Linked DNA regions of Homo sapiens: all the other regions are linked to region 3. Evidence: fine-mapped expression QTL. A gene starts in region 3. Each other region holds a variant in brackets. All regions are shown on one strand. Distances are from middle to middle.

Region 1 (2,500 bases), 110 kb before region 3:
GAAAAGATCATGGTACAGAGCCCAGCAATCAGGGTGCTCTTGGACAGAGCTCAGCAACTGAACGGCAAATAACTCTAAGTTGTTCCATTCTTTGCAACATACTGCTGTTTCTAGGTTCCTTCAATTATAGAAATACATTGAATTCAATATTAATACTTCTGTTCAGACAGTAATATATATCTCAGACATGCATTCATTTTTGTATCAACACTGATAACTATTTGTTAAGATTCATTCTACACCTTCATTGAGCATTTATGGACTGATACGGTCTTTTCAAGTGATGCCAAAAAAATTCCATTTCTCTCGTTCAGCCAAACTTCCGCTTAATGTCACCACATAATGCCTCTACTGCCTCCCGTCCTATTCACTTTGTAACCACTTCAACCTGCCTTTTGCCTTTATTACTCCAATGAAAAATGCTCTCCTTAAGATAGCAATAACTTCCGTAATAATAAATCCAATGACAATTTCTGTCATCTCTCCTGGGTCCAAATTCTGAGAAAATAGTCTCTCTTGACACCAGAAAAACGATTATCGTAATATCCCTCCCACCGCATTGTCTGTCCCTTATTCTCCTTTGGTGGCTGCTCTGCCTTTACTTGGCCTCTACTGTTGGCATTTTTTGGAGCTCAGTTGGTTGATGACACCCACATTTATCTCTAGTCTAGACTTCTGCTCTGAGCAGTAGCTAACTCACATGCCCAATAGCTGACATGACATGCACTTGGCAGTTTTCCCAGATTATCTTCAATTTACGTGTCTAAAATATTAACTGTTGATGCTGTCTGCCCTGCAAATGAATTCTCCTCCTCCTCAGGCCTCTCCGTTACCCAGAGAGTAATGCCATCAACCAAAACAAATATCATCTTTGAGTCTCCTCCTGGCTGCCTGCCATACACCCGATTCATAGGCAAGTCTGTAGCTGTCAGATCTTAAACTGGAGTAATTCACTTCCCTCTCTGACCATTGCTACCACCCAATCCAGGTCACCTTCGCTGATTACGTGTACTACAATTGACATCCTCCTAACTGGTCTTACTGCCTCCATTCTTTCCTCCAACCTCCTTTGTAATGGTTGGATTGATCTTAAGATGTATAATGAATCAAGGAGTACCCTGTTCAAAACAATTCAATGCCTCCCCATTGAACTAAAACAAATCCTAAATTCTTAAAATGGCCAGCAAATCCCTGCATAATCTGGTCCCACTCTATCTCCCTTTATACCAGGCTTTTTTCAGATTCAAACCTGGTAAGATTAAAAAATAAAAATCATGAAATAATATGGCACAGATAAGACAAATAGAGAACTTATCACAATGAATGTCAGTTTTAAATTCCACATTAAAACTCAAAATAAATTATGTTATAAACAATAAATCCAGCCAAAC[G/A]CCACATACAAAAGAAATTCAAATAATTTAATCTGAGAAAAATTTCAGCTGGGAGAGTAACTTAAGATGCCAAATCACTGAGGCCCTCTTATAGATAGATGTTTAGAGAAGTCTTTGCAGAGGCAAGTGATGTTTGCAATTGATGGAATCATTTTGCAACCCAAAAGGGAAATATCAACATACTTGCAGAGAAGAAAGGTAGCGTAAAATATTACTTGGCTACTAAATTAATCAACAACCTGGAGTTACCCTTTCCCCAGCCTTCCTATGTGAGATAATACATGTCCTTCCAGTTTAAGCCTGTTTTAATTGGGACTCTTGTTCCTTTCAGCTGAAATACCATGGACTGCAGCACGGCGTTGATCGCTGCGTGCAGTGCTGCATCAGACAGTGTTCTGTGCCCTTGGGTATGTGTTTGAAGGATATGGTACTCCTAAAAGCACCTTCCAGATATCTGTCTTCACGTCTTTTTCGACTTAACATCCTTGTTTATTTTCACTTCTTCAGTTGCTGAACACTTTGTTCTCCAGGTCCATTTTTGTCACTGGCTTTATGGGTGACTCTGGCATTTCTACACTATCACTTTTGACTTTATGTGATCTTGCTTAGCTGCACAGAAGGCATAAAGAAATGGAATTGGGACTATTGCTAGATCTTATTTTTTCTTATTAGTGGTGGGAAATGGATACTATTATAGAACTCTGTTTTTAAAGATAATATTGGGAAATGGACTGAGCCTAGCAAATTGTTGCCAGGGAGCTAAAATACACTTAGGGCAGCCAAACTAACAATTTGTCATCTGCCAGAAGTCAGTTCTGGCAATGGTGTAGAATAGTTTTTTGAAGACAACATTTTGATGTTATTCCAATAGTATGTTCTGTAACTTGGGTTAATAAAAGAAATGTTAACTTTGGCCACTTGGTGTCTAATTTTGTGGGGGAGGAAGATGAGCCTGCTTAAAGGCCTAAATTGGTTTCAGACTGAACTGCTGAAATTGTTTAATCGCTTCCATAAATTTCGCTTAAAAACTATTATTCAGTATCCTAGTTGACTAAAATCTAAATGGAAGCTGTTTAAGAATTAAAGAGAGGTTTTAGCTTATTTGAGTA
Region 2 (2,770 bases), 30 kb after region 3:
AACCTATAGCTAACATCACATCATACTTAATGGTGAAAAACTGCTTTTTTTTTTCCCAAAGAAACAAATATTAGTAGATCTAAAGGGAGCAATAGAGAGCAATAAAATAATAGTAGGGCACTTCAACACCCTAATTTCAGCAAAGGACAGATCATATAGATAGAAAAATCAATGTACAGCCAAGAAGCATATGAAAAAATGCTCAACCTCGCTAAACATCCAAGAAAGGCAAATTATATTGACATAGTTTGGCTGTGTCCCCACCCAAATCTCATCTTGAATTGTAGTTCCCATAATCTCCACGTGTCTTGGGAGGGACCCAACGGGAGGTAATTGAATCTTGAAGGCGGTTACACCCATGCTGCTGTTCTTGTGATAGTGAGTCCTCACTGGATCTGATGGTTTTATAAAGGGCTTTTCCCCCTTTTGTTTGGCACTTCACCTTGCTGCTGCCACATGAAGAAGGATGTGTTTGCTTCTTCTTCCACCATGATTGTAAGTTTACTGAGGTCTCCCCAGCCATGCTGAACTGTGAGTCAATTAAACCTCTTTCCTTTATAAATTACCCAGTCTCTGGTATGTATTTATTAGCAGCATGAGAATGGACTAATATGCGTATGATCTAGCAATCCCACTACTGGGCTTATGTCTGAAAGAAATGAAATCAATATGTCGAAGAGGGACATCTGCACTGTCATGTTTGTTGCATTAGTATTCACAATAGCCAGATTATGGAATCAAGCCAAATGCTCATCAACAGATGAATGGATAAAGAGATTATTATATGCAATGAAACAGTATTCACCCACAGAAAAGGATGAAATCCTGTCATTTGTGACAATACGGATGAGCCTGGAGGACATTTTGTTAAGTGAAATAAGCCAAGCACAGAGACACATATATACTATAAGATATCACCCATATGTGGAATCTAAAAAAATTAACTGATACAAGTTGAGAGTAGAACAGTGGTTACCAGAGACTGAGGAGAATAATGAGAATGGGGAGAAGGGGAGAAGGTGGTCAACAGGTGAACTGTTACAGTTAGACAGGAGAAATAAGTACTGCTGCTCTTTTGCACAGTAGAGTGACTATAGCTAACTATAATGCATTGTATATTTCACATATCTAAAAGAGAAGATTTTGTCGTGAATGTTCTCATGACAAAGCAATGATAAATATTTAAGTTGATAAATATGCTAATGAACATGATTTGATTATACAGTGTATACATGTATGCAGACATCACACTGTA[C/T]CCCATGCATATGTACAATTATTATATGTCAATAAAAAATAAAGTTCATTAGCTTCAAAAGAATGGACAAGCTAGTATCAAAAGTCATATAGGAATGCAAGATTACCAAAACAGAGAAAGTAATATGGAAAAAGAAGAACAATGTTGAGGCCTCATGATTTCTGATTTAGCAACTTACTACAAACCTATATGGTACTAGCATAAGACATATACATCAATGGAACAGAACTGAGTTCATAAATAAACTCTCACATTTGTAGTTAATTGAGCATTCAATGGGAAAAGAATTGTTTTATCAACATATGTTTATAAAACAACCGAATATTCACACACAAAAGAATAAAGTTGGGCTCCTTCTTCCTACCATACACAAAATTTAACTAAAAATGTATCATATGCCTCAATGTAAGAGCTAAAACTAAAAACTCTCAGAAGAGAACATAAATTTTTATGAACTTGAGCCCAGCAAAAGCTTGTTATGCACATCAAACTCAGTAGTAACAAATGAAAAAACAAATTAGGCCTCATCAAAATAAAAAATGTTTCTGCAGCAAATTATACCATCAAGAAAGCCAAAGAAAACATGAAAATGGTACAAAAGATTTGCAAATTCTATATCTGATAAGGAGCTCAATAAAAGGATGAGCTAACTGAAAATGAACATTTCTCCAAAAAAGATATACATAGGAAAGGATACTTGAAGCATTAGCCATTTAGAAAACACGAATCAAAACCACAATAAGATACCACTTCCAGCCTCTAGAAATGCTATAGTAAAAAAGACAAATAATCACAAATTTGCGAGGATGTGAAGAAATTGGAACACTCATATATTGCTGGAGGGAATGTAAAATGTTGCAACCATTTTGGAAAACAATTTGGGAGTGCTTCAAAACATTAAACATAGCCTTGTCAGACGACCCAGAAATTTTCTTCTATTTATCTATTCAAGAAAAATAAAAACAAATCCATAAAAAAACTTGCATACAAATGTGCACACTAGAAGTATTCATAACAGCAAAAATGGGGAAATAATCCAAATGTACATCAACTGATGAAGGAATAAATAAAACATGATATATCCATACAATGGAATATTATTCAGCAATAAAAGGAATGAATTACTGACACATAATACAATATGGATGAACTTTGAAAACATTATACTAGGTGAAAGGAGTCAACGACAAAAGATCAGATAGTATAATTAATAGACATAATATGAAAAATAGACAATTAGGGGCTAATAAAAATGTTCTAAGTTGAGAGTTTGGTGCCTGCTGCATAACTGTGAATATAGTAAAGCCTTTTTCATTCTGTACCTTAAATGGGTGAATTTTGTGTGGTATGTGAATTATATTTCAGTAAAGCTGTGAAAAATGCATATACATAAAAATATTAGCTTTTGTTTTTCTCTCATGCTCCAGTGAGTTGCAGAAGTCAGAAAAGAGAGGATCAGGAAGCCATCAATTCTGCTTTTACCTGTACATTTTTTTCTTATTCTTTCTTATTTAG
Region 3 (2,500 bases):
TTTAATGACTAGCAAGTACATTTTTTAAAGGACAATATGGAACAATTTCATTTTCCGCATTTTAACTGCAAGCTTAGCTGATATCTTTTGGACACCTGAATTTGTTAGTCTTTGGAATGCTATATCTAACTACATTGAAATGCTACTTTTCATTTGTCTTTGAAAGACAATCTGAAATGAATCCTAGAACCTATAAAACGAACCCCAACTTGTAGCATTACTTTTTAAATTCCACAAAGGTGCCTTTTTGTACCTACAAAATGTTTGCAAGAAAATAAGCAAAAAACAAACGGTGTATTCCGTAGTTCGTTTTTGTACTGGTCTGCTGGCAAATCTTTCAGTCAGCTGAGTTATATTTTTCCGTATTATTTTTTTCTAATCCTTCCTTTAAAAAAATTGTGTTTGCTAGTTGTCATGTATTAATTTAGAAAACGCAAAGAAAGAACTCATAACTTCAGTAAGCTGAAGCATTAGCACATGTGTACTTTTACCCCACTTATGTTTATTTTTTCATACATATTTTGAGCAGTATTTTATATTTTCCAGATTTAGGGAAAGAAACATTCTTCCCTTTTCACTCCAAAAATAGTGAAGGAGTCAGGTTGCTATTTTGCTCTTGTTTTGTTTATTTCCAACTTATAAAACCACTGGACTTTTGTTGTCATTCATTTTAGTTTATTTCTTAGTGTCTATAACAAAACTATCAAGAAAATCTAAAGCAAATGTAATTCTACCACTAAAGTTTAAGAGCAGAATTAGAAGTAGGTGATCTTAAAGATAATACTTTGTTTAAATTAACTACAGGATCCAATTCAATGCCCAATAATACAGAAATGCTACCTTTGGCATTCTACAAATTAAAAATGTTAGAAATATAGGATTATGCTAAAAATATGTAGCATATTTGTAGTCAGAATAACTTAGTTGAAATGAGAATTTCATTGATACTTGATATGTCATTATGTTGTGATACACCAATTTATTCAACATTATTTTAAATTTATTATTATGCCACCAAAGAAGAAAGAATATTAAGAAACCTCTTAAGCGTTTGGTTTTTAGGTAGTACTTTGTACTGATATAAAATCTAAGTTAAAACTGAGCACTTACCTTAGATATTAAGAAAAGCACACTGGCGAATGAACTACAGCTGGCCCGAGCTCTACCACAGACAGAATGTTTCAAACTTTTCTATGACTTACAGAATGAGAGCAAAGGATGAAGCTTCAGCAACTGTCCCTGGAGAAAGGGCTCTCACGAGTTTCGCCCTGTCTCATGTTTCATCCCCTCACATTAGCAACAGACGTGTCTAATTTTACTCAGTGACATAAACAGTTCATACCACACTTAAAATTTTTTGGGCACCAATTCCAGGACACAGCTCTTCGCATGCCAAAAACAAACCAAAACAAACAAACAAACAAGAAACCAAACTCTTCTTCTTACAAAACCAACTTTCCAACATTTAAACCCTAAAGCATGATAGTTTAATGTAATTATAACTTTCTTAAAAAAACTTTACCTCAAACAAACAGCAGAAAACTTCTAAGACTGGTTTCCATTAGAAACTAATGTTGATAAAATTTTACGAAAAATCTCTTCAAATTAACATGCAAGTTAGAACTTGTGACTATTACCTATATACTAGTCTCATCCAAATGAACGGCATATTACCATGTAACAGTGACTCTTTAAAAATCACTTTCCCTAAGCCTCTTTAAGTGAAAAACTTTTAACATCTGAGGAGAAAATCTTAAACAAAGATCACCATAATAGAAGGTAAACAAACTCTGCATGTTAAAATTATGACAGTTCTTTTCTAGTAAACTAACATTTCTATTGTGTTTAACAAATTATGTGAATGTAACAAATGTGACCTTAAATTGTCTTTATGTTTATTTAAGAGTAATTAGGTCATTCCATTTTATAAGGTGTAAAGACAACAGAATAAATATCGAACTTCTGAATAATTTTAATATTTTATTTTGCATTATTTTTATGTGACCTGGTTTGCAGCAGGATTAAAACTTACTAAATTATATACTTCATATTTGCATTTTAGTACTAAACCTTGAATATAAGAAGCAGTGCCTTAGTATACATGCACACAGAGATGGGAACAATCAGATACTGGGGCCTGCTTGAGGAAGGAGGGAGGGAGAAAGGTGGGGTTCGGAAAACTGTCTATCGGGTACTGGGCTTACTACCTGGGCGATGAAATTATTTGTACATCAAATCCTGGTGATATGCAATTTATCTGTGTAACAAACCTGCACATGTACCCCTCGAACCTGAAATAAAAAATGAAGAAAAAAAGGAGCAATGCAATAACAATGCATATGCTTCATTCTCATTTTATTTTCTTCTCAGGAGACTTTTCTCTTCATTCTGCTTATTTATACTCTACCATAATTTCTTTTGAAATTTGATACTTCTATCATACCAGCAGCTGCAGGCCTTAAATTACAAGCTGATACAGCTTCAAATAATCTTACATTTG
Region 4 (2,768 bases), 22 kb after region 3:
GCTATTCTCTTTACCTGCTGTACTTCTTGGAGTCCCGGGGCGCAAACAGCCGCTGCATTTCCCTTCATTCCCGACGGGATGACACCACAGTCTTCTCCCCAGACAGCGCGGGCCTCTGCTCCGTCCTTCCTCAGCGACCGCAGCGACGACTCTGCTCCAGGGCGGGGGAGCAGCTTCCCAAGCCGCGGGCGCCCACTTCCCCGCCCGGACTCCGGGCGGTGCTGGCCGGGGCGCGCGGGGAGGCGGGGACCAGGGACCCCCCAGGAACTAGCCTGGGCTGCTGCACCGCTGCCAGGGCCGTCCTGCGCCTAGCCGAGCCCAGGGCGCCGCCGGCTGGACGCCCGTCAACTCCCACTGCGCCCGGCCCCCGAGCGCGCCCGGCTGGATCCGGCGCGCCCCTCCGCCCCAGGCGCCGCCAAGTCCCAGCACTATGCGCCCCTCCAGATGTCCGAAAGCGCCTCTCCAGGGCAGCCTATGTCCCTCTGTGTCCTTCCCGCGACGGGCCGGGCCCACCACTCCACACCTCCCGGGTCCTTCCATGTCCATCACCGTGTGCCTCTCCAGCATCCCCCCTCCCCTCCAAGTTCCAACATAGCACTCCTTCACATATTCCCCGCGTCGCTTCAGAGGTTCCTCCAGCCACTGCCCCGCCCCTCCACTTTTCCAGTTTCTCCAGTTCTATCGAGGCGCGCCCCTCCAGCACGTCCCCACCCCTCCACTCCCTCCCCGCGTCCCTGCACTCCCTCCCCGCACCCCTGCACTCCCACTCCGAGCCCCTCTGTGACCAAACACCGCGCCTTTCCAAGCGCTCCTCCTTCGCGCCGCCCCAAGATTCCCCTCCATACCCTGCACTCCTTCCGCACCCACCCACGCACCCCTGCGCGCCTCCACCCGGCGGCCTCTCCACCCTCAGACTCGCCCCCGCGATCCAGCGCGCGGGGCACTGGGCAGGGACATTTCTCGCTCCCACGCGAGTCCTTCGCTGCAGACGCTGGGTGCCTTCTTTCCAACCCAACTACTCCTGCTGAACGCATCTTGGGCTTGGAGCGCGGGACCACAATCTTTACACTTCTGGCCCTCGTCCTTTACTGTCAGAAAGGGTCAGCACCTGAGGAGATTTAGATAGTCCCTCTGGAGGGAGTGGTTCCATTTGCGAGCCTTTAAAAGTCTTGCCACCCAGCCTGTCCCCCGCAAACCCCTTGGGTTTATCACAGTTTACTCACTCTCGCGCAATGCTAGTTCTCCATCCGCCGCTAGGAGGCACCCCGAAGGGTTTGCTGTGGTGAAAACAATGCTGCATGCAGTTTATGCTGCACTTTAGTTAGCTCTTGGAGGCGAGCTGGGAAATAGTGACTGCTGATCCATGGACAAAGAAGCCGCTTTTTACTATGTTCTATTTTCAAGGCCTGAAGAAGTTCTCTGTAGCACATAGTAGTCTGGAGTTGGTTCCTGCCGGTGGGTTCGTGGTCTCAGGAATAAAGCCGGGACCTTCGCGGTGAGTGTCACAGCGCTTTTAGATGGCA[C/G]GGACCAAAGAGTTGGCGGTACCAAGGTTTATTGTGAAGACCAAAACAACAAACGTTTCACACTGTGAAAGGAGACTCCAGCCAGCATGGGGGGCAACTTTTATTCCCTTATTGTCTCTCCCTCCCCTGCCCCGCCCCCATGTTGCTTTTCTGTCCTACCAGAGTGCCCTTTTTTCAATCCTCCCCATGATTGGCTACTTTTAGAATCCTACTGATTGATGCGTTTTACAGAGCGCCAATTGGTGTGTTTTACAGAGCGCTGCTTGGTGTGTTTTACAGAGGGCTGATTGGTGTGTTTTACAATCCTCTTGTAAGAGAGGAAAGTTCCTCAAGTCCCCACTTCACCCAGGAAGTCCAGCTGGGCTCACCTCTCAATACAGTTTTCTAATTAGTGCTTGTGTATTTAACTCACTTATTTATTCGTTGACATTCTCCGTACACATGCATCACGGGGGAGCATCTTGGTTTTACCAGCTTTGTGTGAATGGTATGGGTATCTGAAGATGTTTGGTGAGTGTGCTAAGGAGGTAAACTTTCAAATATATTCCCGAAAGGATCATGCTGGTGTATTTTATGATTTTTTACAGTAAAAATCTGGTACCATATTTGGGACCAAGTAGAAACATAAAGATGTTGGACCGTTTTAAAATGTTTTTAATGTAACAGAATGGATAACTGCAAGGCAGAAATGTTTACAACTTCTAGATTACACTTTTTAAAAGCAAACTTTTGCAAAGGTAGAAATTGAAACGAGAAAAGCCAATTTTCCAGAAGTGTCCAGTGCAATACTTCTCTAATTACTTCTCTCTCTTATAGTTGATAGACAGTGATAATCATTTTCTAAAAATATCCCCCTCAAGGAGCAAAGGATAAACAAGATGGATATAGAGATATATTATTAAGGGTATATTAATAATTTCCTACATATTTCACAGGCAGCAAATGACAGATATTGTGAATTATTACTCTAAAAATGTCCGTACTAATCAGTAAAGGCTGCAGTTTAATATTTCTGCCAAAGAATTCAAAAGTTATTAATGTGTTTTAATTGCCAAAACTAATCTGATCTCAGAGCCAGAACTTCTCCTTTGTTGGCTTAGAAATAAATTATTAGCAACAGTTTGTGCTGGTGATGACGATCGCAGTGGGGATCTAGAGAACTTATGAGTCCCGTGATAAAAAGCTAAATATATCCGAAGTGGTGTATGAAAACAACCAGGGGTGTGGGCAAGGGATACCATCTCC

Direction of the effects. Positions count from the first base shown, and alleles are read on the strand shown. Sizes are in standard deviations (SD) of each study's normalised expression. Not every link is listed here.
For the expression in tibial artery of the gene that starts at base 1,207 in region 3, allele G in region 1 goes with a lower level than allele A (moderate effect, 0.46 SD a copy in GTEx).
For the expression in fibroblasts of the gene that starts at base 1,207 in region 3, allele G in region 4 goes with a higher level than allele C (small effect, 0.29 SD a copy in GTEx).

Evidence for each region. PIP is the estimated chance that this variant, and not a neighbour inherited with it, causes the effect. A credible set is the group of variants that fine-mapping cannot tell apart.
Region 1: its variant is the best candidate, but not a certain one, in a credible set for the expression of SGCG in tibial artery (GTEx, PIP 0.64).
Region 2: its variant is the best candidate, but not a certain one, in a credible set for the expression of SGCG in lung (TOPMed, PIP 0.64).
Region 4: its variant is the best candidate, but not a certain one, in a credible set for the expression of SGCG in fibroblasts (GTEx, PIP 0.85).

Annotation. Positions count from the first base shown.
Region 1 is chr13:23,288,466-23,290,965 of GRCh38, reverse strand. The region is part of intron 5 of SGCG (sarcoglycan gamma); the gene reads right to left. Among named protein-coding and RNA genes, the nearest start is that of SGCG, 110 kb to the right of the region's middle. The variant G/A (reference allele first, on the strand shown) is at 1,392.
Region 2 is chr13:23,149,564-23,152,333 of GRCh38, reverse strand. All of the region lies in intron 1 of LOC124903134 (a long non-coding RNA gene), which reads left to right. Among named protein-coding and RNA genes, the nearest start is that of LINC00362, 20 kb to the left of the region's middle. The variant C/T (reference allele first, on the strand shown) is at 1,256.
Region 3 is chr13:23,179,686-23,182,185 of GRCh38, reverse strand. SGCG (sarcoglycan gamma) reads right to left here and starts at 1,207. Exons shown (of 8, transcript NM_000231.3): 1 at 1,111-1,207.
Region 4 is chr13:23,157,893-23,160,660 of GRCh38, reverse strand. It overlaps LOC124903134 (a long non-coding RNA gene), which reads left to right and starts at 985. Exons shown (of 2, transcript XR_007063719.1): 1 at 985-1,495. It also overlaps a transcript of SGCG not described here. The variant C/G (reference allele first, on the strand shown) is at 1,524.